Linked DNA regions of Homo sapiens. The protein of the gene in region 1 interacts with the protein of each later gene in a pairwise test. Each region holds a gene or a part of one and is shown in the gene's direction. Other genes may lie near its edges. The genes, in order: CLK3, RNF8, NKAPL, SLAMF7, ZNF835, EIF4ENIF1 and HNRNPR.

Region 1 (4,252 bases):
TCACTGAACAGGGATAGTGAGGTGGGGCTCTTTTACCTGCCAGATGGCTAACCCTCTGGCTATCCTGGGATAGGCGGAGGGTAGGATACTAGAGCCAGAGAGCTAGAAGAAGGGACAGTAACGGTACTGTTGGATAAAGGCAAGGCACCTGGCAGGGCACTGTGGGGGTCTAAAAGGGTGCTAAATGGGCCTCTGGAAAGAAAGTTAGATGCGCTGGGTCCACGTCCCCTTGGGTTGACCCTCAGGAGGGCTATGGAATGTTTGTGAGGCCTGTGTGCCTCTTTCTCCAAGGGCTGCTCTTCTAGTCTCTTGTGGCTCCTCATGCTCACTTGTGGTCCTTACTCCCTTGAGTGGGGTCCAGTTCAGGGCCCTAGCCAGACAGCGTTCAGCTTCTCAAACTTGAGGGCTTTGAGCCCTCGCCTCCTGTGTACAGCCCTTTGCCTGGCCTTTGGCTTTACAGAGCATTCACTTCACGGGACCGCCCCCCCGGGCGGGAGGGAATAGAGTGCAGGAGGCTCCCCTTTCTCCTGCCTTTGATCTCCCTGTGGTAGTGTTCACCGTCCCCACCCAGGGTTACTGCCTCAGCCCCTGGCCCTGGCTCACCCAGTTCCCTGAGCACCCAGGCCACCAGGCTAGTGATGCTCTGCTGGGAGCTGTTTGTTTGTTCACTGGCAGAGAAAGTTGTTTCCTATTGTCTGCTGTTTGACCAGTGTGACCTCAGAGTTCTTCTTCACTTCATAAACCTCTGGGAGGGGCCGCCTTCAAACAGAACAATGGGCCTCTTCAGGAGCAACCGGGAAGCCCCAGCAGCCCCATGGCTGGAGGTGGCTGGCTGTGTGTTTAGCAGGGCTCTCTGTTCCTCGTGGCCTAGATGCATCACTGTAAGCGATACCGCTCCCCTGAACCAGACCCGTACCTGAGCTACCGATGGAAGAGGAGGAGGTCCTACAGTCGGGAACATGAAGGGAGACTGCGATACCCGTCCCGAAGGGAGCCTCCCCCACGAAGATCTCGGTCCAGAAGGTGAGAGGGAACTAGATAGGAGGGAAAGACTCCTTCTGTCAGCTGGGCTCAGCTGTGGCAGCTCCAGACTCCTTGAGATGACTCCATCCCTGCCCAGCTGTCCCTGGATCCCTGCCCTGTCCTCTTTGGGCTCCTCCACTAACCTCACCTGCATGCCTTGGCCTCAGCAGTAGCTACCATCCTTGCCGCCCACTCTTTCTCTGTCTTGGAGTGCCTTTTCTTCTCCCCACACATTCCCCCATTTTCTAGGCCAGCATCTTTCCGCTTAACCTCCTAAGCCTTCCTTGGTGAGGATTAGGAACATAACCTCACCCCTGGAAAGTTTGCTCCCTGGGCCTATCTTAGCTCCCAGGTCAAACTTAGAGTTGCAGCAGGCCACAGGGAACTCTGGAAGGGTATAGAACCCTTGGAGGCACTCTACCATACTCCCCTTCCCCTGTACCCCTCCTCCTACAGCTGGAGGATGCTGTCGTTGGACAGGGCTCTGGAGGGCGGGCTTAGTACCTTTGCACCCTCCCCTCTCTGCCCACTTCCCACCAGTGTGGATGCTTTTAGCACAGGCTGTCCCCCTTTAGCCCTTTACAGTGGCCTTACCACAGGTCTCTTGCTTGCTAACAGCAAGGACCCAGCTGACCAGCGTCCCCATCCCCCTTTTGGCAGCCATGACCGCCTGCCCTACCAGAGGAGGTACCGGGAGCGCCGTGACAGCGATACATACCGGTGTGAAGAGCGGAGCCCATCCTTTGGAGAGGACTACTATGGACCTTCACGTTCTCGTCATCGTCGGCGATCGCGGGAGAGGGGGCCATACCGGACCCGCAAGCATGCCCACCACTGCCACAAACGCCGCACCAGGTCTTGTAGCAGCGCCTCCTCGGTGAGTGGTAGCCAGAGTGTGCTGGCTGGGGCTTAAAGGCCTCATCTCTTCCTAGCCTTCTCTCAGGCTGGCTGGTCCGGGTGAGTACTGCCAGCCCTGTGCACGTGCACTGGTGTGCGTGCATGTGTGTGTGTATGTGTTGTCTGGTCCAGGTGTAGGGCTGATCACAGGGTCCTGGCCTCTGTGTCTTCTGGCTCTTTCCAGTGGCAACTGTAGGAACTCTGGCTCCGATGCTGGCTGGCCCCTGGCCTGTCTATGTCTACACAGTGCTCCAGACAAAGGCCACGTGGTGCAAGTGGCTGGGGACACTTCTTAGGACACTTCTTAGGGATCCTAGTAGAGTGGCTGGTATGGTGGTCTGCAGCTATATGGCCTGGTCCTTCCCACCCAGAGACTGCCTCCTCGTGTAACTGAGTGCTCTGATGTGGACTGCACCCACCTCTGCGTCTCATCTGCACACCCCTTCCCAAAGGCCCCCAGTCTGGAGTGCCTCACAGGACCGGAGGATTTGCCTGTCAGCCAGCTCAGACTGGGAACTTCCCTTCTGATCTCCAGCCAGGCCCTCTCCAGCCGAGCCTCTTTACGAGGGGCAGTCGCGGTGAGGAGGGGCAGGTGCCTGTGTGATGGGGCATGTGAAGAAATGGCAGAAAGGCTGCCGCCCCAGGCCTCGTCCAGTTGCAGGCCACATGCCCAGAGCAGGGCCTGGCCAGTATTCCTAGCATGGAGGGTTGTAAGGTCTCTGGAGCCCACATTGCGCTCAGTCCCCTGGGGAAGCAAAGCCAGTTGTGTATTTCCGAGGTTACGTGCGGTCTTCTCTTCTCCCCCATCCCTCTTCCCTGCCTCCCTCCTGCCGGCCTTGAGGCCCCTGAGGAGCAGTGGAGAGGCCAGGTGTCTTCTCTGCCCAGCGCTTTCTGTGACTTCTTTGAGTGGCTACAGGTTGAGGGTTGACTGTGCGGGCGATTGCAGCGTGGCCCTTTCACCTCTTTGCACACTGCCACATGCTGCCACAGGATGGCAGTGCAGGTCTGGCTCTGTTTCTCTGTTTGGTGCCCTCTATCGATCGTCGTGAGGCTTGGGATGGGCCTAGATTGTGAGCAGCATGGGTGCCAAGGCCAGGGCAGGAGCTGGCATGGGGCCTGTGTGGGCCATTGTGGTAGGAAGCCTGGCAGTCGACTGGCCCAGAGGATCCCAGGCTGCTTTCCTTCTTGAGGCTGGTGGCAGGAGGGCTGCTGACGGAAGGCTGTTTCTGGTAGTGATGGTGAAATCTGGCCAAGGATGCCGTCTGGAGGCAGGTAGCAGCTTGGCTGTGAGTGGCAGCTGTCAGGCATGTGCAAGTCTGCGTGGGCGAACAGAGGCAGGCAAGGACAGGCTGGGCATTCTGCAGCTGAAGCCGGAGCAGCCGCTGACCAGTCTGGATGGTTGGACCCAGGCGGGGCCAGCTGCCTTCTTGCGCCGCCGTTCTCACTGCATCTTCCGCTCTGGCCCAAAGCCACATGGGAGGGTCTGGGAGGGAGAGACTCGGAGGAGGAGGAGGAGGGAGTCGGGGCGATGGCTCTCCTCACAGCGTGGCCCTCAGCAGCAGAGGCAGGTCATCTTCCTGAGCGTTTGTGGCGCTCCTCTTAAAGATAATGTCCGAGTTTTCTTTACATACCTGTAGCTGTTTTTACTTTTCTGTTTTTGAAGTCAGTTTGTGTCTTGACGTGTCCCTTGCAATATCCCTATCGTTATATATGCTGTGTGCCTTATGAAATGCTGGGATCTGGAAAATCCAACCAACCAACCCACCGGCTCCTCACCGTCTCCACCTCTGCCTTTGACTGACACCTCAATCTGTCAATCGGAACCGCCTACCATGCGATTGGTCGGATGGCGTTTCGGGGGGCGGTGCATGCAGAGAAGCCAACAGAGCAGTAAGCGCAGCAGCCGGAGTGTGGAAGATGACAAGGAGGGTCACCTGGTGTGCCGGATCGGCGATTGGCTCCAAGAGCGATGTACAGCCACCTTTCGTAAAACTTTACCTCTCTACTTTCTACCCCCCTTGTTAGACGAGACCTCTCCTGCCTGGAGGGGCCTCTAGTGCGCGTGGTGCCTTAGCGGGGCCACCAGTAATTGCCTGAATGACACAGACACTAGCAACTTCCATTTTTAAGAGTGTAGCAGTGAGAGAGAAACCTTTTTTGTTTTTGAGAATTTGAATGCTGTGAACTTGCAGGAGCTGCCAACCCCCTGCCCTCCAGATTCTCATGCCCAATTTCTTTTCTCTCCTAGATGAGATTGTGGGGAACCTGGGTGAAGGCACCTTTGGCAAGGTGGTGGAGTGCTTGGACCATGCCAGGTGAGCGAGCTGCGGCA
Region 2 (4,252 bases), on another chromosome or scaffold:
GTGTAGGAGAAGCCTGCCAGGCTTGGCTGCCTGCAAGGTCAGGTCGTAGCATAGCCTGAAAAGAAGTCTGAATCAAAGGCAAGAGAAGAAGTTGTACTTATTGTTATGGTCCCCAAATCATAGCACAAGCTGTTTTGCACAAGATTTTAAAAGATACGCTAATAACATAACAGCAAAGGTAGGTCAGTTCCCTGCCTTTCCAGTTCTTAGTCTCAGATGTTGTGGATAAAATAATAAAACAGGGTTCCTTTCATTTCATTGATGGGAACACTGTAGTAAATTGTCTAATTAAGTGGCTTTAAGCTTGTTAAAGCAATGCATAGAGTTTGGTGGAAAAACAAGTAGAGATTTATTGCAAATTAGCTAGTTCTCAGGTACTATAAAGTATCTAGGCCTTTGGGGAAAACAACAGAACCTTCTCTCCCCTTTTCTTCTCTTGTATTTAGTTTTCATTAAGTTTTCTGCCCCAAGGGAAAAAAGGGAAAGGATGGTTATATTTACTGGTTTGGGGGCTTTTTTGTGGGGTGTTTTGTTTTGAGACAGAGTACTCCTTCTGTCACCCAGGCTGGAGTGCAGTGGTGTGATCACACCTTCACCTCCCTGGTTCAAGTGGTTCTTCTGTCTCAGCCTCCGAAGTAGCTGGGATTACAGATATGCACCACTATGCCCAGTTACTTTTTGTGTTTTCAATAGAGGTGGGGTTTCGCCATGTTGGCCAGGCTGGTCTCGAACTCCTGGCCTCATGTGATCCGCCCGCCTGGGCTTCCCAAAGTGCTGGAATTACAGGTGTGAGCCACCACACCTGGCCAGATTTACTTGTTATTTGAGAAACAGTAGGAATTGTGCCCAGGAGGAAAGAGATAGTCTTAGTGAAGGTGGGCAAAGACAGGATGATCTTTTAGATCAATAATGTGTGTAAGCTCAAAGGCTTGCAAAACTATTGTAAATGAAAACAACCCCTCACATATGGGTCGTCAGTCAGTTCCCACGGGAAATTCAGTGTTATGTTGAGTGGTCCTGAGATTTCCAGGTAACCTCACTGCACTCTTTAACTACAGTATAGGTGAAATATCAGTAGTACCAAGGTAAATTCTAAGACCAGGCAGTGCAGGGAAGGATGTAAAAGAATGATTCCTTTTTCTGGGTTCAGAGTCTGTTGGAGGCAATGTCAGGAAAAGGCACTCTTCTACTGTTTTGGTACTGTTTTCCCCTGGCTACTCACAATGGCAGTCTGGCTGTCTCCCCTCAAGTATTAGCATGTAATATGAGATGCTTCCTCTCTTAGAGATAAAGCTACCTAAATAGAAATTTTACTGAATATGGACGACAGATAAATCCCTAGCCATTCCATTTTTAACAGATATGTGTATTCAGAGGAACTTCTATAATTAATATAATTCTGGCAGAGTGTGAAAGAACTGAAAAACTTTGTGCTCAGTGTTGGTGGAGTGATCACCACAACATTTTAAAGAGAAACAAGTGAGACTGTATGAGTTCCAACTGCTGCTCCATATTTTCCAATGGTAATACAGTCTCTAACTTCTGACCTAAAAACACCCACCCTAAAATCTTGAGGACTCATATGCAAGACCTCTTTATTCTTTCATTCATTCTCAAATACTTAACTGAACACTATGCCAGGTATAGAAACACAGTGGTAAACAAGACAGATAAAGTCCCTGCTTATCTAATTTATATTCTATTACGGGGACAGAGGGGAAAAGTAAAATAAACAAGATAATTTTGGTCTGTGATAAGTACTTCCTAATAACTGAAGAAATATGATGGGAAGCAGACAACCAACTTTAGACAGAGGTAATCAGAGTAGGCTTATGAGTAGCTGGAACATGAAAGATAAGGAGCCTGTGCAAGATCTGAGAGAAGAGTGTTCTTAGCAGAGGGGCTAAGTGAAAAGACCCTCAGGTAGGCTGGCACTTCGGGGAGATGGGCTTAAGGAACAACAACAACAAAAAAGTTTGAGGGGCTGGAGCAGCTAGTGTTGGCACTATGGTATGAGTTAAGACTAAAGAGTAGAAGGGCTCAGGACATTCAGGGTCTTATAGGCCATGGAAGGAAGTTTGAATGATTGGACAGTTTTAAGGAAAGAAGGAAAATGACCTGATTTAAAATTTTTACATTTCTATTCCAGTTACTATTATAAAGCTTATGGGGGCTAGAGTGAGAACAGAAACAGTAGGAGGCCAGGTGGTTTGGACTAAGGCTGTGGCTGCAGAGATAGGAATGAACAGACTTAGGACATATTTGAATTATAGCCCATATAATTTACCAGTGATTTCAATGTGGGGATGAGGGACAGAGATGAATCAAAGATGGCTTCTGGGTTATGGGTTGAGTAGTTGGTTGGATAGTATTGTGAATACTGAGATAAGAGTTTGTGGGGAGGAATAGATTAGGTCAGTGAGTCGTGGTGGTCTTTGAGGGACTGAGGAGGACAGGCATTCTGAAAGATTTTAAAGAGAAGAGAAGAGGGCAGTTTTAGCTAACTTTGGTTTAAAGTTCCCAGTTAAGGTTGTGATATGGGACATTAAAGAGGTCGTTTGTGCACTAAGAAGAATATGCAGGGAGCCGGGCGCGGTGGCTCACACCTGTAATCCCAGCACTGTGGGAGGCTGAGGCAGGCAGATCACTTGAGATCAGGAGTTCGAGACCAGCCTGACCAACATGGTGAAACCCCGTCTCTACTAAAAATACAAAAATTAGTTGGGTGTGGTGGTGCGTGCCTGTAATCCCAGCTACGTGGAAGCTGAGGCAGGAGAATTGCTTGAACCCGGGAGGCAGAGGTTGCAGTGAGCTAAGATCGTGCCACTGCACTCCAGCCTGGGTGATAAAGCAAGACTCTCTCAAAAAAACAAAAAAAAATTAACAAACAAAAAAGAATAAGGGAATTCTGTGATCTGGAACTCAGAAGAATTTCATTTCCTTCCTTCACAGGGTTGTTATGAACTAGACTGGTCCAACAGGAAAGTATGATAGATGTGAACTGGGGCTTCTTTTCAACCTTTTCCGGAAGCTCTCAAGCTGTTCTTGTGGATAAGACAGAGAATATGTACTCCAATGCAAAGACTTTTGGTTGAATTATAACTGGCTGAAGGTATATCCAGATGGTGTGGGTTAATGTTTACTAGGTTTTCCTGAAAACTTTGCCTTTGGCTGCATCCCATTCTGTGTCTTGAACGAAGGTATAGAAGGCATCATCTCATAAATTTGGTGGAAGAGATATTAAGTATGTCTGATCTGATGGCAGATTAAAAATTCAGAAAGGTCTTGACAAATTGGTTTGATAGGCTGAACTAGCAAGATGAAATTTAATAGGAATCAATCTAAGGTCCTGCGCTTGAATCCAAGGTTTTCCATCCAGTCAAGTATAGAGCAGAAGAGACAGGACTTAGGATAGCATTTCTTGGAGGAGGGGGAGACCAAGAAATTTAATCATTCCTAAGTTCGAGGATACACTGGCAGTGTACTAGATCTGCTATGAAAGCTAATGCAATTTATATGCTCCAGTGATAATATCTAGAACTGGGAAAGTAACACTTGCGTTTGACTGTGTAATAGAAATTAAGTTTATTTTTCTTAATATGCCATCCAGGAATAAAGATAAACCAGCAGTCCCTTCACAGACTCATTAGAATGGCAAAGGCTCAAGCCCATCCCCTGGGAGTTAAGTTGAAGTAACTGGGAATACAGAACCAGGAAAAGAGAAAACTCAGTGTTCACTTTATATCTGTGCCATTGAAAGGGGATTGGAGATTTCCCGATGGTGCCCAGGGCAAAGCCAGGGCCAATGGATGGAATTTACAAGGAGAAAAATGCCAAGTCAGAGACATTTTAAAAATTGGAGGGCCTGCCTTATGTAAAGTTACTGACAGTATTTATGCGTTGATGGGATGTGTAGAAAGAATTCCTCTATCTCATAGTCATTGAACCAGATGACCTTTCAAGATCTTGGCAACCCTGAGATACATGGATAACTCTTTTTCAGCTTTCTCTTGTTGTCACAACCGTTTGCCTTTTTCTACTTGGTGGTTCTCAAGACAGCTGAAGAGGAGATAGCTGATGCACTGTTTTGGTTCCACAGGTGTCTGGTTTCTTAAGTCAGGACCTGCATATGCTGCTGGTTGATGAGATTTGTAAAGGACCTCCCTTTTCAGCACAATGACTGATGGTATTTCTTGCATTGTTGTTGTCTCCCAGGTGACTGTAGGACGAGGATTTGGTGTCACATACCAAC
Region 3 (4,101 bases), on another chromosome or scaffold:
CATGTATCCCAGAACTTATAATAAAAATTAAAAAAAAACAGTTATCTCTTCCTTGGAATAATTGAACAAATTGTTGATTATGCTTTATCATTTAAAATAAATGTATATTTTGTCTTAAAAAAAGTATGTAATAATATCCTCAATTTTGCCTCTTGGCCCACAAAGCCTAAAATATTTACTATTGGCCTTTTGCAGAAAAGGATTGCCAGCCCCTAGTCTAGGTCATAACTTTTCTAAAGATCAAAAATATATTCTAAATTTCATTTTCCTGTGTCGCTACCTGAAAGAAGTATTTCATCAACCAGCTTTGTAATTCAAGTCTACATCAGATACTAAATGGCTTAAATTTACAATTATCCAAGTAAGACATATCCATTTCATTGGCCTATCAAGTAGTTTATAACTCCAAAAGAAAATTTTCTTTACTTACACAAACTCTATAGTACTCACCCTATCCATATGATATTTTCACTATACATGTGACCATTCACATATAATACTCCCTGCTGTTTACCAGTTCCTAAATTCATATAATTTATGTATGGAACCAATTCTTATCCCCTTCAATCAAAGTACTAAAATTCTACTTAGAGCAAATGATATGATTTGGTCTTATTCAATTTAATTTCCCCCATTTTGTTGTTTAGAGTTCTAGCATCAGGAAGGCATCATTCTTAAGTTTTGACCTGGCTGTCAAACAACTGAGCAGATCAACTTAATTAGAGAGAACCAAGATGATGTTAATGCCTATTTACATTTTAAGATGAGAGATAAATGATCTTGCATAAAACGTTTATCATTTCTGAGAGTGAGATCTAATGTGTATCGAGAAAGTGGTTTCCAAACTACAAAGTTTCTGAAGAAGTCTCCCTAGATAGAAAGACATCTGTCTACAAGATCGAGTGGGATGCTTCTGTGTGTTTCTAGGGTGGAAAAGTCTGTGAATTTAATAATTAAAATCATGACTCTGGGCCGGGCATGGTGGCTCACACCTGTAATTCCAGCACTTTGTAAGGCTGAGGTGGGAGGATCGCTTGAACCCAGGAGTTTGAGACCAGACTCAGAAACAAAGTGACAACGGTCTCTACAAATAATTATTAAAAAAATCAACCTGGCGTGGTGGTGGGCACCTGCAGTCCCAGCTCCTCGGGAGGATCTCTTGAACCTAGGAAGTCAAGTCGGCCCTGAGCCATGATCGTGCCACTGCACCCCAACCTGGGCGACAGAGTGAGATCCTGTCTCCAAAAAAAAAAAAAAAAAGTACGACTTTGGCCTTCACCTAGCTTAGAGGGTGAGCTCAAACTGATTCCAAAAGAAGTTTTGGTTCTTGCTTCCAGTGGTAACAAGGGGGGTTGGGAAGTGATTAATTAAACATATTTCCTCCACGAAGAGGGTGGACAAGTTCCTTTTTTAGGAAGGAAAAAAGGAGGAGCGTTGGTAGTAGGGATCTTCCACAGAGGGGTAAAGTTAAGGAGGTGGAAATGAAAGGGAAGAACAAAGGGTGAGAAGCAAAATGGTAAAAGCGAAATCGAAAAAGAGAAGTGGGTGTTCCAACAGTAGAGGGGATCATTGACGCAAATTCGTCCTTTTATGTTCCCACACGGCTCAAGTTGGGGAATATAAGTCCTAAAAACAGGCGCACCCTAATCCTACCTACTTCCCACAAGAAGCCTTCACGCAGCCAAGGCCCGCCCCACATAGCACACGCGCGGATTCGTTTTCCGTTTGGTAACTGACAGGAAGCGGAAGCCGTGCGTGGGAGGCCGATTCTAGTGCGCCTGCGTGGCCGCGAATCACCAGCCAGCCTCTGGGTCTGTAGCAACCGCCCAGCGTTGAGGCGCGGCTCATGCCCCCAGTATCCCGGTCCAGCTATTCCGAGGACATCGTGGGCTCTCGGAGAAGGCGACGCAGCTCCTCGGGGAGCCCACCATCCCCGCAGAGCAGATGTTCCTCTTGGGATGGCTGTTCCCGCTCTCACTCCCGCGGCCGTGAGGGCCTCAGGCCTCCTTGGAGTGAGTTGGACGTGGGCGCTCTTTACCCCTTTAGTCGCTCTGGGTCGCGAGGGCGGCTCCCAAGATTCCGCAACTACGCCTTCGCGTCCTCCTGGTCGACCTCGTATAGTGGATATCGCTACCATCGTCACTGCTATGCAGAAGAACGGCAGTCAGCGGAAGACTACGAGAAGGAAGAGAGCCATCGGCAGAGGAGGCTGAAGGAGAGAGAGAGGATTGGGGAATTGGGAGCGCCTGAAGTGTGGGGGCCGTCTCCAAAGTTCCCTCAGCTAGATTCTGACGAACATACCCCAGTTGAGGATGAAGAAGAGGTAACGCATCAGAAAAGCAGCAGTTCAGATTCCAACTCGGAAGAACATAGGAAAAAGAAGACCAGTCGTTCAAGAAACAAGAAAAAAAGAAAGAATAAGTCGTCTAAAAGAAAGCATAGGAAATATTCTGATAGTGACAGTAACTCAGAGTCTGACACAAATTCTGACTCTGATGATGATAAAAAGAGAGTTAAAGCCAAGAAGAAAAAGAAGAAAAAGAAACACAAAACAAAGAAAAAGAAGAATAAGAAAACCAAAAAAGAATCCAGTGACTCAAGCTGTAAAGACTCAGAAGAGGACTTGTCAGAAGCTACCTGGATGGAGCAGCCAAATGTGGCAGATACTATGGATTTAATAGGGCCAGAAGCACCTATAATACATACCTCTCAAGATGAAAAACCTTTGAAGTATGGCCATGCTTTGCTTCCCGGTGAAGGTGCAGCTATGGCTGAGTATGTAAAAGCTGGAAAGCGAATCCCACGAAGAGGTGAAATTGGGTTGACAAGTGAAGAGATCGGTTCTTTTGAATGCTCAGGTTATGTCATGAGTGGTAGCAGGCATCGCAGAATGGAGGCTGTACGACTGCGTAAGGAGAACCAGATCTACAGTGCTGATGAGAAGAGAGCTCTTGCATCCTTTAACCAAGAAGAGAGACGAAAGAGAGAAAGTAAGATTTTAGCCAGTTTCCGAGAGATGGTGCACAAAAAGACAAAAGAGAAAGATGACAAGTAAGGACTTACTTGTTGCACAGCAGGAATTTTAACAACAAAAATTTTATGTGACCAAAAGTGTTAAAAGGCTTTACAGTGCTACTGTACTTACCATATTAGTAAGTCCCTCAGGAAAAAGCTTCTTTTGAGATATCTTTAGCAGCTTATTTTTTGTTATTTTAACTTTAAAAAGTAATATGTGCACATGGTTTTAAAAATATTCAACCATTATAGGAGGAGAGTTAGTAAAAAGTGAATCTTTCACTTTAGCCCCTGACACCTTTCCCCCAAAAATATATATTTTGGTGTCTTATATACAGAATATACATTCTGTGCATATACAAGAGTATATGTTGCAGCATAAAGATTAAAAGCTATTAAAGTTTTTTTTCGCTCGTTACTCTTTTGCCATTCATTTGCCCCGGGGGGACCAAAAGAAGCCCAGAAAGAACAAAGGATTCAATCAAGTGTATACTTCTACTTTCAGTTAATAGACTGGCTTAGAAAATAGAAAAGATTTAGTGGCTCTTACAAATGAAAAGTCTAGAAGAAGGATGGATTTTCTGCATGGCTTTAATTGGACATTGGCTTTCTTCTCCACTTTTTTTCCAAGGGTCATTTTCCTTGGGCTGGTTTCCCTTATATAACAAAAAGGCTGCCAAAGCTCCTGATTTTGGTTATCTTTTTTCTGGTCCATCTCTGAAGAGAGAACATTTCTTAGTTGCTAATCCAAACAAGAATCCAGAGATTCACCATAATGGGATAAGCTTGGGTCACATGCCCACTCAAAACAAGTGTTGTTGCTTAGGAAATAGAATGGCTTATCTGTGGAGTCATAGACCAGTTATAGAGGAATGGATTCTTGAATGAAAATCAGGGTAATTTTGGGCAAGGGGGATAGACAACCATAGACGCGTACTACAGTTTCGAATGCTTTTTTAAAAAACGTATAATGAAAGTACATGTGCTAAAAGTGAACATTTTCTTGAAGAAAAACTTGGCTTCGACTATTAGAAGTCAGATTCTAATTTAAGAGGATATAGGGTTTATTCATAAAAAGAGATATAA
Region 4 (4,252 bases), on another chromosome or scaffold:
GCACTGGTAGGGCAGTTTATGCTTGAGGGAAGGTCACCAGAGGACAAGAAGGGAAATTATGGTCCAATGGCACCCAAGGGCTTTGAAATTGACACTAGAGTCCCTTAGGGGGATGGAGAAGGGGAGTGAGGGAGAAGGCTGGAGCTGGTACAAACGCCAGGGGGCCTTCAAATTGAGCCATAGTGAAAACAGTCCAGGTCCCAGAGCTGGAGAGACATTGGGTTAAATCCTCAAATCGTCACCTGCTAGCTTTGTGCCCTTGGATAAGTTACTTAGCTGTTGTTATTTGTTGTTGTCGTTGTTTGAATCTCAATTTTCTCATGAAGTCAGGAGTTAGCAAATTTTTTCTGAAAAGGGCCAGAGAATAAATATTTTAGGCTTTACAGACAATAAATCATGGTCACAATTATTTAACTCAGCCTTTGTAGTGAAAAAGGATCCATAGACAATATGTAAATGAAAGAGCCTGGCTGTGTTCCAGTACAATTGTATTTACAAAAACAGGCAGTGGACCAGATTTAGCCTATGGGTTATAGGTTGCTGATCCTTGTGTAAAAGGGTCAAAATGCCTAATTTGCAGGATTGCTTTGAGTGTTAGGCATACTCTTTACAATAAACGTTTGGTGCAGAATAAACATTTAATACATGACAACTCTTATAATTTGGAAACCCTTGCCAAGATATTTGATTTTAACAGGGACCAAAGAAATAAATCTCTAATGAAGCAATTTTTGATATCTGGATATGTCTGTATAGGAATTTGTCCTTTTACTAGAAAAGGCATGAGTTACATCAGTACTGGAGTAGAAGAAAAGATTGTGTCTAAGAGAGCAGGCTGTGAAATGAAACAGAGCCTGGATGCTTGGTCAGTCTCACAGGGCCAATTACACACAGGAGACACTGTACATAAGGCCCACGATAGTTTTAATTTTAATTTCTTTTAAAATCAGAAGAGAAATGAATATAGCAATAACAATAACAATGAATATATAATGAATCCAGCCCGGATCACATTCATTTTATACCAACACAGTCATGAAATATGATTTTTAATATTTCTTATGGAAGAAGGACCAACAAGGTCAAAAGTACACAGGAACCACAAAAGTCACCATGTAGCCTTGCAGTAGCATCATTAGAACTGTCAGGATCCTATAGCTTGGCTGTTTTGTTGGCTTTGCTTCTTTCATTTGTGCTTTTCATGACTGAATTAATAAAAATTCCATTTAAAAATTTCACCCTGACACTTTATGTTAAGAGGCAGAAGGGGAAATAACTTTGGGTTTTGTACTTTTAAGGAGAACACCTTTGTTGACAGCTGATGTGAGACCTCAGTTCTTGTCTACTTAGTTTAAAAGAATTTATATGAGAGATACACAGCAAAGGAAATACAGCATAGGGTAATTGATTGCAAAAGAATAAGAATATTTTGACAGTTAAGTGCAGAAAAGACAGTACATTCTGAGAGAAGGAAAATTCAGGGTGGGCTGCCCATAAGGATGAGACAGCAAAGACTGGCACTGGGGAGACCCCCTTTATGGGAGTCTTACATGATTATTCATAAGAGGGTGGGAAGAGGTGTTACTAGTAACCATGTTCTTGGTGGTCCTCTGGGTGGACGTGCACAGTAGCTATACATGCTTCTTCATAAATCTCGTGTCTCATTAGCATCTTAAATCTCCACCCATGGGTGTGTTTTTTACTATTATAATGAGCAAAGGGTCAGTTTGAGAACAAGTAAAATCAAAATCCGCATGCTCTCTACAGCGGAAAGTCCTCACTGAAGATAGCTTTGCTTAAATGAGCTCAATTACAATGTGAATGCTGAGGCTTATTGTATTGACTGTAGGGTCACCAGAGTTACTGCCTCCTGAGAACACTGTTACTTCCTTGACTACCTAACCTGCCTCACCTTTAAGGATTTAGTCTTAGTTTTTGTATTTCTATCAGCCTTGAATAAGTTCTTATCATTTCTACTATTTAGTTTTCTCATCTATAAAATATGCCCTTCAAGGTCTCGACCCTGTGGGTTTTGGTGTGTACTCTGCCTCTTACTAGGTGGCTTGAGTAAGTCATTTACCCCCACTGTGCCTCACATTCCTGATCCGTAAGATAGGGATATAAAGAATGTTTCTTCAAAAAGTTGTTTTAAGAGTTAAACAAGGCTGGGTGTGGTGGCTCATGCCTGCAATCCAGCACTTTGGGAGGCAGAGGCGGGCAGATCACTTGAGGTCAGGAGTTCAAGATCAGCCTGGCCAACATGGTGAAAACCCCACCTCTACTAAAAACACAAAAATTAGCTAGGTAAGATGGCACACACCTGGACTCCCAGCTACTCAGGAGGCTGAAGAAAGACAATCACTCTGAGGCAAGACAATCACTTGAACCCAGGACGTGGAGGTTGTAGTGAGCTGAGATCGTGCCACTGCAATCCCGCCTGGGCAACAGAGTGAGACTCTGTCTCAAAAACAAAAGTGTTAATCAAGATTATAATTTATGCTTTTAAACTGCTAGTCCCAAACTAAATTCTCTCACTGCTCTGTGTTATTCCCAGAGTCTGTCTCTCAAGTTTAATAGGTAAGAATAAGATGACTTACTCCCCACATCTGTTTACTGGTAATGCTCAGCTGGCCACTTCTGGAAGTTTCTTCAGCAGACATTCTTAACTGTTTTTCACCTACAACCACATAATCAGTGATGATTTTTTATAAGTCATACTCTCTGGGAGTGAACTAAGATTGTTGTGATACATAAATTTCTAATATAATGCTTCCATGTGAGCACTTACATAATAGGGTAACATGTGAGGGACCTCTATATGAGGTTCCAAAGGCTTTTCCAGGAGGTTGTTGTGTTGGACTGAGTGGGTTTCTCAGATCTCTCCAGGACCCAAAGGGGGTGAGTAATTGGTGACAAGGACAGGGAATCAGGCTTATTTTATGGTTCTCTGTGTTTATAGGGTCAGCAGCCTCTGGACCCGTGAAAGAGCTGGTCGGTTCCGTTGGTGGGGCCGTGACTTTCCCCCTGAAGTCCAAAGTAAAGCAAGTTGACTCTATTGTCTGGACCTTCAACACAACCCCTCTTGTCACCATACAGCCAGAAGGGGGCACTATCATAGTGACCCAAAATCGTAATAGGGAGAGAGTAGACTTCCCAGATGGAGGCTACTCCCTGAAGCTCAGCAAACTGAAGAAGAATGACTCAGGGATCTACTATGTGGGGATATACAGCTCATCACTCCAGCAGCCCTCCACCCAGGAGTACGTGCTGCATGTCTACGGTGAGCAAAATCAGTTCCAATGGTGGATGGCTGCCTTGGTGAGGTGGTGAGCTCCTTGACATGAGAGATGTTTAAGCAGAGGCTGAATAAACACTTGGCAAGAATGTGGGAGAGGGGACTTCTGCATGAATGAAATAGATGTAGCTGACCCCTGAGGTCCCTGCCTACTCAGAGATGTTGTAAGAAGCAGCGTGGTGCAGTGGATGGCTGATATGTGCAGTGGCCATCGCATAGATCAAGGTCAAATGCTGGCTTCTTTATTTAGTCACATGACCTTAGCCGAGTTATTTAATTTCTTCAAGTCTTAGTTTCCATATCTGTAGTGGGGAGGAAAGAAATGCCTACCTTAGGAAGATTTTTGGGCAAAATATCGATCACATCTCTTTCTCTACAGATTACAACCAATTGATAAATAGATGCAAGAAGGAGGGGATTAAAATATCAGCATATTTCTGGTAAATCTAGACAGGAGAAATGCTTCCTTTCAATTCTAGACCTTGGCACTCATCCAGGGAAGTTAAAATTATGAAACAATGACTCAAACTTCTTCAAGAAGAATAGCTGCTTCACTCACTGAGCCACAGTATCAGGAACCTTAGGGGATGGGCCTCCAGACTTGCTTGTAGGAGGTAGGCACTGCACCTGATCCAGGTGTGTCTTCCATATAGACATGGTTGAAGGGAACAGAAGATATGTATTCTGCAGGCTAACTAGTCAGGGGAGGAAGAAAAAGGGCAAAACACATTTTAACTGCAACCTTTAACGTCTCAAACCCATGAGTAGAGAAAGGTAAATGATGAATGTCAGACTCTTACCATCTCACCAATGAACCAACTACTCATTCTCTGAGGCAGGGGAGTGAGCACAGAGTAGAGAAGGGGGCCAGAAGGGCTACTCCAACACAATTTTCTCCTAGAGAGTAAAGTGAACTCTCATAGAGAGTAAAGGGAAGCCTGAGGACAGAGACTAGGG
Region 5 (4,252 bases), on another chromosome or scaffold:
GAGCTCCTCCTTATACCTTACCCTGTGTGTCTTCCATCTGGCTGTTCCTGAGTTGTATCCTTTATTGGAAACCAGTAACCGTAAATAAAGCATGTCCCTGAGTTCAATGAGCTATGTGAGCAAATCACCAAACCCAAGGAGGGGTTGAGGCAGTTTTATGGTTGGTAGCTGCCTGTGCCTCCCAGTCAGAGCAGATTGGAGACTTGGTTGTTGGTGTGGAGAAAGCCCACGTGTCAGAAGTGCTGGGAGTAGACAGCTTTCTTCTACTGCCCCCAAGCAAGCCTGTGTCTCCCCTTGGGCTCCTTTGTGTGTGCACAACACCCAGGTTTACCCAACCCCGCTGTGAACCCACCTGCCCTCCCCCTACACACGAGGTGGGTACCCCTGCACACTCCGGGGATGCCGGTGGACGTGGCACCTGAGCCGACCCAGCCTGGCCCCCACCAGCAAGTTCTTACCAGCACACGTGACTTCCTGTGTGAGCTGACCCCCACCCCACTCTACCGCATCTCCCCTGCCTTGCACCTCAGTTGCTCTGTCCAGCCCCACCCCCTTTACCTTTCCTCTGCCACCCTTGTCACCATCCTGCCCTGGGACCTTTGCACTTGCTGTGTTCTCCACCCTGAACACAAACATCATCACTCCCTCAGGGTCTCCTCTTGTCCTCTTGCTGAGGCACACGCTGCGGGAAGAGCATGTCAGGCAGAAAGAATAGCCCACACAAAAGCCCTGTCTTGACCAGGTGTGGTTGGTGGTGCCTGCCTGTGATCCAAGCCCTTTGGGAGGCTGAGGTGAGAGGATCACTTGAGCCAGGATTCCCAGGCTGCAGCGAGCTATGATTGCAACACTGCACTCCAGCCTGAGCAACAGAGCAAGACCCTGTCTCAAAAAAAAAAAAAAAAAAAGCCCTATTTTAGGTCCTTTGGGGTGTGACGGAATGCCATACTCTGGTGGCTTAGAAACAGCATTTATTGGCCGGGCACAGTGGCACATGCCTGTAATCCCAGCACTTTGGGAGGCCAAGGTGGGTGGATCATCTGAGGACAGGAGTTTGAGACCAGCCTGACTAATATGGTGAAACCTCATCTCTACTAAATACAAAAAATTAGCTGAACATGGTAGCGCATGCCTGTAATCCCAGCTATGCAGGAGGCTGAGGCAGGAGAATCGCTTGAACCCGGAAGGTGAAGGTTGCAGTGAGCCAACATTGTGCCACTGCACTCCAGCCTGGGCACCAAGAGCGAAACTCTTATCTCAAAAACAAAACAAAACAAACAAACAAAAAAACAAAAAAAGAAAGAAAGAAAGAAACAGCATTTATTTCCACACAGTTCTAGGGGCTGGAAGTCCAAGGTCAAGGTGCCGGCAGGTTTGGTGTCTGGTGAGGGCTGCTTCCTAGTTCATAGACCGGGCCCTCTTGTTGTGTCTTCATTTGGAGGAAGGGGCAAGGGAGCCTTCTGGGTCCTCTTTTATAAGGGCAGGAATCCAACGCCTGAGGGCTCCAGCCTCATGTCATCATCACCTCCCAGAGGCCCCACCTCCTAGCACCACCACAAAGGGTTAGGATCTCACACAGGAAGTGGGGAGGACAAGCTTCAGACGTAGCCTGTCCAGCAGCAGCAGGAGTGTACCCGGAGGAGCCAAAGGCCGAGCACTCTCTGCTGTATGCACACAGCCTACTAGTTGGTTCAGGGAATGCCTGTGTGTGAGGGGCTGAGCCCACACATAACATGAGGCCAAGCTTGCTGAGAGACCTGCCATGTCCCTCGGGAGAAGGGGAGGCTGGAGCCCTGTTTAGAGAGAGAAAACCAGGCAGAGCCTCAGAGCAGGTAGCCACTTACCTGCAGCCACACAGCCTGGAAAGGACCTCCCAGCAGTGTGAGCCCCCTCCTCTGGGGCTAGCCCCAGCACAGTGGATCCACAGGCAGCTGCCTCCTTCCCTCTCTCAGCACCAGGAGGTCATTTGTCCATCTGTCTTCCCATTCTGTTAGAACTAAAGCATCAGAAGTCAGTGGTGAGTTTCTCGCCAGCGTGCAGGTCCAGTGTACACCAGGCAATTGGTATAAATCCTTCAGCATCACAGCCCCACTAGAAGTAACTATATGTATGGCTTCTGTTATGGCTTTCTAAAAAACAGTGACTTCCTGGGCTCATATAAAAACAGATCCCTGCTTTCCACTGAAAATGTGCAAAGCAGACAGGGTAACCTGCAATAGCTTGAGATCACCATCTCTAACGACCCTGGGCCCACGAGCCAGCATGAACCTCTGAGCCTGGGAGACCCTGGGCAGCTCCTTCACTGATGGAGCCCTGTAGAAGGGGAGCATAGTGAGTTGAATAGTGTCCCCATAATGTGAAATCTGGGATCACTGTTGGCTGATTCTGTCTGGTGAGGGCTCTCTTCCTGGTTTACAGATGGCCGCCTTCTCCCTGTGTCCTCACACGCAGAGAGGACAGAGAGAGCAGAGAGTAAGTGAGCCCCCTGGTGTCTCCTCTTATAAGGACGCTAATCCTATTAAGGAGGATGCCCTCATGACCTAATCATCCTCCAAAGGCCCCACATCAAACGCTGTCACACTGGGAATTAAAGTTTCAACTGATTTTTCCCCAGAAAAGAAAACTGTCTTTCCAGTTATCTTAGCTCCAGCTTACAAAAAAAATCACAGATTAGGTGGCTGAAGCAATAAACACTTATTTCTTCACAGTGCTAGAGGCTGGGAGTCTGAGATCAGAGTGCCAGCATGGTCAGACCACACTGAGGACTCACTTCCTGGCTTGCAGACGGCTGCCTTCTTGCCATGTGTTCACCTGACAGACAGCGAGCTCTGGTGTCGCTTCCTCTTCTTATCAAAACATTAGTCCCAGCCAAGCGCGGTGGCTCACGCCTGTAATCCCAGCACTTTGGGAGGCCAAGGTGGGTGGGTCACCTGAGGTCAGGAGTTTGAGACCAGCCTGGCCAATATGGTGAAACCCCCTCTCTACTAAAAATACAAAAATTAGCCGGGCATGGTGGCGTGCACCTGTAGTCCCAACTACTCAGGAGGCTGAGGCAGAAGAATTGCTTGAACCCGGGAGGCGGAGGTTGCAGTGAGCCAAGACTGTGCTCCAGCCTGGGCAACAGAGCAAGACTCCATGTCAAAAAAAAAATAAAACAGTCCCATTGTGGGGGCCCCACCCTCATGACCCCCTCTAAAGCTAATCACCTCCCAAAGGCTCCATCTCCACAAAGCATCACCTTGGGAGTTAGGGCTTCCATGTATAAATTTTGAGGGGGCACAATTCAGTTCACAGCACCAGATTACAGGGCCATATTTTAAGAGCTGACAGATTCATGCTTTTTTTTTCTTTTTCAGGGATCTTTTAAATTTGTTTTTAGTTCCATTAAGTCAGTGATTCCCAACTGGGGGCAATTTTGTCCCCAGGGGAGGGGACACCTGGCAGTGTCTGGAGACTTTTTAAAGAAAATTCAGACAGGGTCTCACACTGTCACCCAGGCTAGAGTGCAGTAGTGTGATCACTACTCACTGCAGCTTCAACCTTCTGAGCTCAGCTGATCCTCTTGCCTCAGCCTCCTGAGTAGCTGGGACCACGGGTGCACAACATCATGCCTGGCTAATTTTTTTTTTCATTTGTAGAAATGAGATCTTGCTGTGTTGCCCAGGCAGCAGACAGTTTGCTGGTCTCAAACTCCTGGGCTCAAGCAACCACCTGCCTTGGCCTCCCAAAGTGCTGGGATTGCAGGCATGAGCCACCACGTCCGGCCTGGAGACATTTTTCATTGTTACAACTCAGGGGTTGAGGGGTAGTGTCCCTGGCAGCCAGTGTGGAGAGACCAGGGACGCTGCTCAACATCTCACAACACACAGGATGGGTCCCACCACACCAAATTATTGGACCCAAAATGTCATTGGCACAGAGGTCCAGGGACCCCATGCTAAGTTCTTACCAGTTCAGCTGTTAGCCATTTTTCCAGCTCAGGACAAGTGGCAACATTTAATTTTTTTTTCTATCTTTTTCTTTTCAGACCCAGAGAAAAGATGTGAGATCAAGACAGCAGCCCAGGGATCGAGGATGGAGGGACTCTTGAGCGTCGCCCTCCAGGGCGCAGAGTTGGAAGGAAACTGGAAACACGAGGGCCAGGTTGAGGACCTGCAGGAAAACCAGGAAAGCTGTCCAGAGCCAGAGGCCGTGGCCTGCAAGGGAGACCCTGCTGGGGACAGCATGCAGGAACGCGATGAATTCAGCCGAATCC
Region 6 (4,252 bases), on another chromosome or scaffold:
GAAACTTGGGGAGTAGAGCTTAACCGTCTGCATTTAACAAGCTCTTCAGGGGATTCTGGCTCTGGTTCAAGTTTGAGAACCATTGGCTTAAGAAATGATCACCTGCTCGCTGGGTGTGGTGGCTCACACTTGTAATCCCAGCAGTTAGGGAGACTGAGATGGGAGGATTGCTTGAGCCCAGGAGTTCAAGACCAGCCTGGGCAGGATGACAAGACCCTGTCACTACAAAAAAAATTTAAAAATTAGCTAGGTATGGTGGCGTATTGCCTGTAGTCTCAGCTACACAGGGGACTGAGGTGAGAGAATCGTTTGAGGCTGCAGTGAGCCATCATCGCGCCATTTCACTACAGCCTGTGCAACAAAAAGAGACCCTGTCTCAAAAAAAAAAAAAAAAAAAAAAGATCGTCTCCTGGCAGTGGTGCTCATTCAACTTTTTCTTCACCAGAAGCCCTTGTTCACCAGTTCTGGAATATAGTACCTGCTATTCTGTTAGTGATGCCATCTTCTGCTTGAAATACAAAATAGAAATGTTTTAGGCCATCCCACTATTCAGATCCATGTGGTTTTCTTTTCTGTTTTTTTGTTTTGAGACAGAGTCTCTGTCTGTCGCCAGGCTGGAGTGCAGTGGCCCTATGTCGGCTCACTGCAACCTCTGCCTCCCGGGTTCAAGCAATTTCCCTACCTCAGCCTCTTGAGTAGCTGGGACTACAGGCGCGTGCCTCCATGCCCAGCTAATTTTTTTTACATTTTAGTAGAGATGGGGTTTCACCATGTTGGCCAGGATGGTCTCGATCTCCTGATCTCATGATCCACCCACCTTGGCCTCCTAAAGTGCTCTGATTACAGGCGTGAGCCACCACGCCTGGCCTCACATCCATGTTATTTTCGTCAAGTGAATAGACTAATCTGTTTTTTTTTGTTTGTTTTTGAGACCGCGTCTCACTCTGTCACCCAGGCTGGAGTGCAGTGTTGCAATCTTGGCTCACTGCAACCTCTGCTTCCCAGGTTCAAGCAATTCTCCTGCCTCAGCCTCCTGAGTAGCTGGGATTACAGGCACGTGCCATGATGCCCAGCTAATTTTTGTATTTTTATTAGAAACGGGGTTTCACCATATTGGTAAGGTTGGTCTCAAACTCCTGACCTCAAGTGATCCACCTGCCGTGGCCTGCCAAAGTGCTGGGATTACAGGCGTGAGCTACCGCACCCGGCCAAATAGACTAATCTTATAAAGGATACATACGTTATGCTGTTCTTCCTTTGCTCCTGTGTTTTGCCACTGATTCCTTATTAAATGACTGTCACCTGCCAGTTGGACAGGGAATAAAAGCAGAGACACTCAGAACATTCAGCTTGATACTGACCAGTGTTAAACATGCGTATTAAAGTTAAGTGAATGTTGAATTATCTTAGTTTAACTTCATGTGGAATTTTTTTTTTTTTTTTTGAGACAGGCTCTCACTGTTATCCAGGCTGGAGTGCAGTGGTACAGTTAACTCACTGCAGCCTCGAACTCTGCATTCATGCGATCCTTCCACCTCAGCCTCCTGAGTAGCTAGGACTACAGGTGTGTGTCACCACACATGGCTAATTTTTTCATTTCTTTGTAGAGATAGGATCTCATTATGTTGCCCAGGCTGGTCTCCAACTCCTGACCTCAAGCGATCCTCCTGCCTCAGCCTCCTAAAGTGCTGGAATTCCAGGTGTGAGCCACTGCATCTGGCCCCATGTGGACTCCTCATAACCTTGACTAGTTACAAAGTGGCATTATTGTAGTCATTAGTGTCTCCAGGGATCTTTAAGGGAGGCCATCCTAATTTGTGGCTGGTAGGCCAATTGGTCATAGCAGTCAGTACAGCCATGTTTGTCTTTCCTTTAAAACAATCAGGAAAATGGACAAGCAGTTGAAGTGACTGACTTGAGTCATCCTAGCCTTCTTGGATATAATCAGAAGACTTGAAGCCAATCCCCAGAGAAAAGAGTAACTGATTTAAATCCTAGGTTGAAACAGGAATCAGGTGGTCCCTTTTTCCAGTACAGAAATCTTATTTGATAACTAAATGTATCTTTTATAAACTGAGTAGTAACTCAGGTGGCATTTCTGTGACAAATTTAGGTATAAACTTCTTAAACTAATTTAAGGATACCTATTTATGTTGGAGAAGGTAGAATTATGGTATGAAAAGTCATTGGGAGGACAAGGTGGGAGGATGAATTGAGTCCAGGAGTTCACGACCAGACTGGGCAATATAGTGAGACCCCATCTCGTTAAAAAAAAAAAAAATTGCCAGAGGTGGTGGTGTGCACCTGTGGTCCCAGATACTCAAGAGGCTAACGTGGGAGGATCACTTGAGCTTGGGAAGTTGAGCTTGCAGTGAGCTATGACTGCACCATTGCACTCCAGCATGGGCAACAGAGTGAGACTCTGTCTCAAAGGAAAAAAAAATTATTCAATCTTAATGTGTCAACTGTCCAGAAAACCTATCTTACTGGAAGTTGTTAGAGCAGGCTGGCTGGCAAGACCATAGAGAATAGCTTCTGACTGCTTTTTCCTACCCGTTCCTTTTTTGTTATTGTTGAGACAGAGTCTTGCACGATCTTGGCTCACTGCAACCTCCACCTCCCAGGTTGAAGTGATTCTCCTGCCTCAGCCTCCTGAGTAGTTGGGATTACAGGTGTGTGCCACCATGCCCAGCTGATTTTCTTTTTTTTAGTAGAGACGATTTCGCCATGTTGGCCAGGATGGTCTCAAACTCCTGACCTCAAGTGATCTGCCCACCTTGGTCTCCTAAAGTGCTGGGGTTACAGACGTGAGCCACTGCACCCGGCCCCTGCCTGTTCGGTTTTGTTTTGTTTTCAGAGGGAGTTTTGTTCCTGTTGCCCAGGCTGGAGTGCAATGGCGTGATCTTGGCTCACCACAACCTCTGCCTCCCGGGTTCAAGCGATTCTCCTGCCTTAGCCTCCCGAGTAGCTGGGACTACAGGCGCACGCCACCATGCCCGGCTAATTTTTTGTATTTTTAGTATAGATGGGGTTTCTCCATGTTAGGCTGGTCTCAAACTTCTGACCTCAGGTGATCTGCCCGTCTCACCCTCCCAAAGTGCTGGGATTACAGGCGTGAGCCACCACGCCCGCCCAGGAATATTTCCCTTTTAATCCCCCTTCCATAAATGTGACTTATGTGAAATTCTACATAATGTCAGAAGGTCCATCAGAATGCATAGTTGTTTCTGCATAGGATTTCTGCAGAAAGAAATGGATAAGGATTTTAACCATTGTTCTTTTGGGCTTTTGTTGAGATTCATTTGCTTTCCACTTTAATAGTGATCACCAAAAGTGGGTGTTCATACTAGTAATTCCCCAATAGGTTTTGGGAGCCTTGACACATTTTCTTTAAGGAAGGCTGCTGCAACTAAGAAAATATGTTTATGCTTCCTTGGGTGTGTGGCTCTTGGGCAATTAGCAGCTTGTTCTTGCCTAGTCAGGTTTTAGTAACCTGTGCAAAAAGTGAAGTCTCAGGTATTAACTCTTATATTCGCCATATGGTAATCTTAATGAATTCATTCGTGATCAGTAAGTTCCTATGGGTTAAGACTTTCCAGGCTAGGCACAGTGGCTCACACTTGTAATCCCAGCACTTTAGGAGGCTGAGGCAAGATGATCACTTGAGCCTAAGAGTTCAGACCAGCCTGGGCAACACAGCAAGACCTCATCTCTACAAAAAATTTTTTAAATTAGCTGGATGTGGTGGCATGCACCTGTAGTCTTAGCTGCTTGGGAGGCTGAGGCAAGAAAGATCACTTGAGTCCATGAGTTTTGAGGCTGCAGTGAGCTATGATCATGCCACTGCACTCCAGCCTGAGAGTGAGAACCTGTCTCAAAAAAAAAACTCCAAAAGGATAGATTAAAAAAAAAAAAAAAAAAACACCTTTCCAAAAGGGTAATATCACATCCTTTCTTGAAATACTCATAAGAAGGAAGCACTCCTAGTTAGAGTGGCCACTTCCCAAGTATTCTGTCTTTAGCCATAGTTGAACGTTTTCTTTGAAAATATCCCAAAGGGGTATTTCCACGAATAATGTTAAGGGCTCTTGATGAGATGGCAAGTTTAAGAACTCTTTTCATGCTTGCTTCGGCAGCACATATACTAAAATTGCAACAATACAGAGAAGATTAGCATGGCCCCTGCGCAAGGATGACACGCAAATTCATGAAGTGTTCCATATTTAAAAAAAAAAAAGACTCTTCTCTTGTC
Region 7 (4,252 bases), on another chromosome or scaffold:
ACCATGTTAGCCAGGATAGTCTCGATCTCCTGACCTTGTGATCCACCCACCTCGGCCTCCCAAAGTGCTGGGATTACAGGCGTGAGCTGCCGCGCCCGGCCGAGGTTGCTTTTTAAGTAGTAAAGATTTTAGAGTTGAGGAGATAACTTGAGGAGAGCTATGTCAATCTTTTATTCAATTATTTTATTTTTATTCATTTTTATTTTTAATTTATAAATTAATTTTTTAATTTTAAATAATAGAAATGGGGTTTTGCCATGTTGCCTAGGCTAGTTTTGAACTCCTAGACTCAAGTGATCCGCCTTCCTTGGCCTCTCAAAGTGCTAGGATTACAGGCGTGAGCTGCTGCGTCCAGCCTCCTTTATTCTGTTTTTATGAGAAAAAGTCAAGTTATAAAAATTTAAAATTTAGAGTAAATACAAATTTTACACTCTTATTAGTTTCCATTTTTCAAGAGACTTGTTCTTTGATAACCCTAAGGTCATTATAATAAAAATTAGGATTAGCTCTGCAAGTCAACTGTAAGTTTCAGATTGTTTCCATTCTTTCTTAACCATCTTCTTCTGCCCCCATCTTTAAAAAAAAAAGGCAGTAGGCTTTATGGCTCTAAAATCAAATGCTTATGTTGGATTCTAATAAGGGGGTTTTATTTCAGGTATTTGTAGGCAAAATACCAAGGGATTTATATGAGGATGAGTTGGTGCCCCTTTTTGAGAAGGCCGGACCCATTTGGGATCTACGTCTTATGATGGATCCACTGTCCGGTCAGAATAGAGGGTATGCATTTATCACCTTCTGTGGAAAGGAAGCTGCACAGGAAGCCGTGAAACTGGTATGTGATAATTATCCACTGTCTTAGCAAGTCACTATTTGAGGAAATAAACTTTAATTCAAAAATGTTTGTAGTTAACATTATTTTGATTTCTTCAGTTGTTGCTTGGAATGTTTTTATACTGACCAAGTTGGTATGTGACGTTTATTTTTCTCTGACTATAAAAGTAAAAAAGAACTGAAAATACCCAAAAAGTAATGTTTTATAGAAAGTCTCCCATTGATTTAAGAAGTTATCTATTAGATTGATATCAGAAGTTTCATATGAGTATTTGGCTTATGCATTTCTGTCTTTTGGTTTTAGGCAAAAGGATGTCAATTCTTGATGTTAAACTTTAGGATTCTTAAAGTATAATGAAGACTGGAATGGGCTGTGGGGAACATAATAGTGGATGACAGTGACTTAGGATTCAATTCAGAAAATAGTTGTGAATCTGTTTTATTTTGGTTACAGCCTACTCATACGATTTATTTCATATTTTCTAAGTGTATTTTTGTTCTTCCTGTATGTTTCTTGGCCCTTGAGTCTTCTCTGTCTTTAATCTTTCTCTCCTCTCCTACTATTTATAGCCAGTCTCATATTAATTTCCTTTCTCTAGGGCCTTTAACCACTTGGTGCTCATTTCAGACCAGTAGTAGTAGCAACAAAGTTCTGCAAATCAAATGTATCTTCACTCCTGCTGTATTTAAGACACAGCTATCTCAGTATCTTAAAATAACAATGTAATTATTTTTTGGCATACCCTTGCCTGACTTCTGAGGACCTCACTAAGTCTAGTTCTAGCCTTTGTAGAATGGTCAACTTCTTTCATCAAGGCTTTGGTTTCATTACTGGTGTCTGAATTAGTTCCACTCCTAGCTTGACCCAGATTTTAGTTTTTATTATGGATTTTTTCTTCAAACTTGTTTATTTAATATTAAGTTTTCATTTTTGGCAGCATATGGATGATTTTATTTTTAATAATCATATCTCTTAGTAAACTAATGGTTAAATAATATTAAAGTATAAGAAGCTAAAATTGGCCAGGTGTGGTGGCTCACGCCTGTAATCCCAGCACTTTGGGAGGCTGAGGCAGGCAGATCACCTGAGGTCAGGAGTTCAAGATCAGCCTGGCCAACGTGGTGAAACCCTGTCTTTACTAAAAATACAAAAATTAGCTGGGCGTGGTGGCGCACGCCTGTAGTCCCAGCTACTTGGGAGGCTGAGGCAGGAGAATCACTTCAACCCAGGAGGTGGAGGTTGCAGTGAGCAAAGATCATGCTACTGCCCTCCAGCTTGGATGACAGAGCGAGACTCCATCTTAAGAAAAAAAAAAAAGGGCTACAATTTATCAAGAAAATCCACTATAGTGATTTAAATAAAACATTTTTCAAAATTTTATAAAATTTTGAAAGTATTGTGTTTGGTAGACAATTTAAAACTATATATTTAGAATTCTGTGACTTCTGTAGAATTTGAAATTTTTCTAATATCTTTGCATTGATTAAACATAGTTGTTACCCTTTACATATTGTTATTTTGAGTATGGCTTACCTATATGCAATTACATTTCCAAGGACCCTGAATGATCAGTCTCAGGTATTTTTTTCTGAAAAATCTGTGGAAAAACATTTTCAGATAGATAAAATTAAAATATGAAATAAGATATTTTAAACAATAAAGTGAGTCCTTTTTATATGGAAGAGTAGTGAAGGTTAACAAAACCAAACTAAAACAAGAGACTGTAACAATGAAGTTTAAAATATACATTCATATTATGGAAAGCATGAGGGAACTTGGTGAGTTGATGAAGCAGGGAGCGTTTGGCCTTAAATTGTTGAATTTTTTAGATTAAGATCAATTGTCCTGAGTTTGGGGTGGTTTTGGGGTCTCTGGTTCTTTTCTTATTGCAGTGTGACAGCTATGAAATTCGCCCTGGTAAACACCTTGGAGTGTGCATTTCTGTGGCAAACAACAGACTTTTTGTTGGATCCATTCCGAAGAATAAGACTAAAGAAAACATTTTGGAAGAATTCAGTAAAGTCACAGGTAAAACAAAAATGTATTTAGAAATTACTTTTGCGAAATATGTTGTACTACTTACAAGTGCTCAAAAAAACTGAGGGGTTGTATGTATTAAATTAAGAATTCAGGTCTGAAGTATCTAAATTGCTTCCTTTCTGCTTTATAGTGGTTTGGGTTTAAGCAAGTTCCCTTATATCCTTCATTTCTTGGAATGTCCCCTTCACTTCTTTGTCTTAATTGAACCTTGGCTTTTGCTGGAGCTTTTGCTCTATAGCCCTCAAGTGAATGCTTTTTTTCCCCTTGACAATTAGTGTATTTTAGGACCAAGAGGATGAAAGTTTTTACTCTCTCCCTGCTGCCTTGTCTAGATCAGATTTTTTTTTTTTTTGAGACGGAGTTTCGCTCTTGTTGCCTAGGCTGGAGTGCAATGGTACGATCTCGGCTCACTGCAACCTCCGCCTCCTTGGTTCAAGCAATTCTCCTGCCTCAGCCTCCCGAGTAGCTGGGACTAGCATGTGCCACCACGCCTGGCTAATTTTGTATTTTTAGTAGAGACGGGGTTTCTCTATGTTGGTCAGGCTAGTCTAGAACTCCCGACCTCTGGTGATCCTCCCGCCTCGGCCTCCCAAAGTGCTGGGATTACAGGCGTGAGCCACAGTGCCTGGCTGATCAGATTTTTTTAAATATCCAATTCTAAATCCATGGAATTGATTGAGAAGTAGATTTTATATCACAGTTCTATACACATTTATATATAACTGAAACAATTTAACAAAACTGTACTTTTATTTATTATACATGATTTATTTTGATATTTCTTATTCTATTTCATTTTTTAAAATGCCAATTGTGATCTAATACTACCTATGATTTAAAAACACTGCGTTAGACCGCTGCCTCCCCTTGTAAAAACCACTGTTTCTTTACATTTTTATCATCCAGACATATCCTTTCCCTTTTGTTGAAGCTGTCATTCGTTGCTCTTGTGGTTTCAGCCTTTCATTAATCTAAAGATTGCTTCTGGCTCACTGTCTTCCTCTTCTGCCCTAAATTGGCTTCTTTCTAATACCTTTAACATCTACATTGGTGAACCATCCAGGGCTTTAGACTCCTACCTACTTCTATGTCTACCTCATCTTTAGTCCTTTACTTCAGCTCCACCATATCCAGATTACATTCTGGATCTAGTCACCAGAAATTCTATGCACTCTGAACTCTTGATTTCTAGCGTCCCACTTTGTAACCACTGCTACCACCCGCTATATTGTGTTGTCAAGTATTGTGTTGTCAACTGCTGGCACAGTTCTTTGACCTCATCACTTTATTATCTATAGCTCCTTCTGGCTTCATGATCATTTATTCATTCTTTCAGCAGGTGTTTATTAAAGTTCCTGTTAAGTGCTGGCATTGTGCTAT

Evidence for each region.
Region 2: the proteins of CLK3 (region 1) and RNF8 interact in binary tests that used the Homo sapiens proteins (3 or more experiments, as listed by UniProt).
Region 3: the proteins of CLK3 (region 1) and NKAPL interact in binary tests that used the Homo sapiens proteins (3 or more experiments, as listed by UniProt).
Region 4: the proteins of CLK3 (region 1) and SLAMF7 interact in a two-hybrid assay, tested with the Homo sapiens proteins (one large-scale study listed by BioGRID and IntAct).
Region 5: the proteins of CLK3 (region 1) and ZNF835 interact in binary tests that used the Homo sapiens proteins (3 or more experiments, as listed by UniProt).
Region 6: the proteins of CLK3 (region 1) and EIF4ENIF1 interact in a two-hybrid assay, tested with the Homo sapiens proteins (one large-scale study listed by BioGRID).
Region 7: the proteins of CLK3 (region 1) and HNRNPR interact in a two-hybrid assay, tested with the Homo sapiens proteins (one large-scale study listed by BioGRID).

What each region holds. Positions count from the first base shown.
Region 1 is NC_000015.10:74,618,326-74,622,577, forward strand, and holds part of CLK3 (dual specificity protein kinase CLK3), read left to right. Parts: intron 1-871; coding exon 872-1,023; intron 1,024-1,683; coding exon 1,684-1,900; intron 1,901-3,794; coding exon 3,795-3,891; intron 3,892-4,168; coding exon 4,169-4,235; intron 4,236-4,252. UniProt on the Homo sapiens protein: Dual specificity kinase acting on both serine/threonine and tyrosine-containing substrates. Phosphorylates serine- and arginine-rich (SR) proteins of the spliceosomal complex.
Region 2 is NC_000006.12:37,356,231-37,360,482, forward strand, and holds part of RNF8 (E3 ubiquitin-protein ligase RNF8), read left to right. Parts: intron 1-4,215; coding exon 4,216-4,252. UniProt on the Homo sapiens protein: E3 ubiquitin-protein ligase that plays a key role in DNA damage signaling via 2 distinct roles: by mediating the 'Lys-63'-linked ubiquitination of histones H2A and H2AX and promoting the recruitment of DNA repair proteins at double-strand breaks (DSBs) sites, and by catalyzing 'Lys-48'-linked ubiquitination to remove target proteins from DNA damage sites.
Region 3 is NC_000006.12:28,257,526-28,261,626, forward strand, and holds NKAPL (NKAP-like protein), read left to right. Parts: upstream 1-1,771; 5' UTR 1,772-1,846; coding exon 1,847-3,055; 3' UTR 3,056-3,433; downstream 3,434-4,101.
Region 4 is NC_000001.11:160,745,235-160,749,486, forward strand, and holds part of SLAMF7 (SLAM family member 7 isoform a precursor), read left to right. Parts: intron 1-2,959; coding exon 2,960-3,280; intron 3,281-4,252. UniProt on the Homo sapiens protein: Self-ligand receptor of the signaling lymphocytic activation molecule (SLAM) family.
Region 5 is NC_000019.10:56,665,018-56,669,269, reverse strand, and holds part of ZNF835 (zinc finger protein 835), read left to right. Parts: intron 1-4,024; 5' UTR 4,025-4,071; coding exon 4,072-4,252. UniProt on the Homo sapiens protein: May be involved in transcriptional regulation.
Region 6 is NC_000022.11:31,479,358-31,483,609, reverse strand, and holds part of EIF4ENIF1 (eukaryotic translation initiation factor 4E transporter), read left to right. Parts: intron 1-4,252. UniProt on the Homo sapiens protein: EIF4E-binding protein that regulates translation and stability of mRNAs in processing bodies (P-bodies). Plays a key role in P-bodies to coordinate the storage of translationally inactive mRNAs in the cytoplasm and prevent their degradation.
Region 7 is NC_000001.11:23,320,136-23,324,387, reverse strand, and holds part of HNRNPR (heterogeneous nuclear ribonucleoprotein R), read left to right. Parts: intron 1-655; coding exon 656-832; intron 833-2,724; coding exon 2,725-2,860; intron 2,861-4,252. UniProt on the Homo sapiens protein: Component of ribonucleosomes, which are complexes of at least 20 other different heterogeneous nuclear ribonucleoproteins (hnRNP). hnRNP play an important role in processing of precursor mRNA in the nucleus.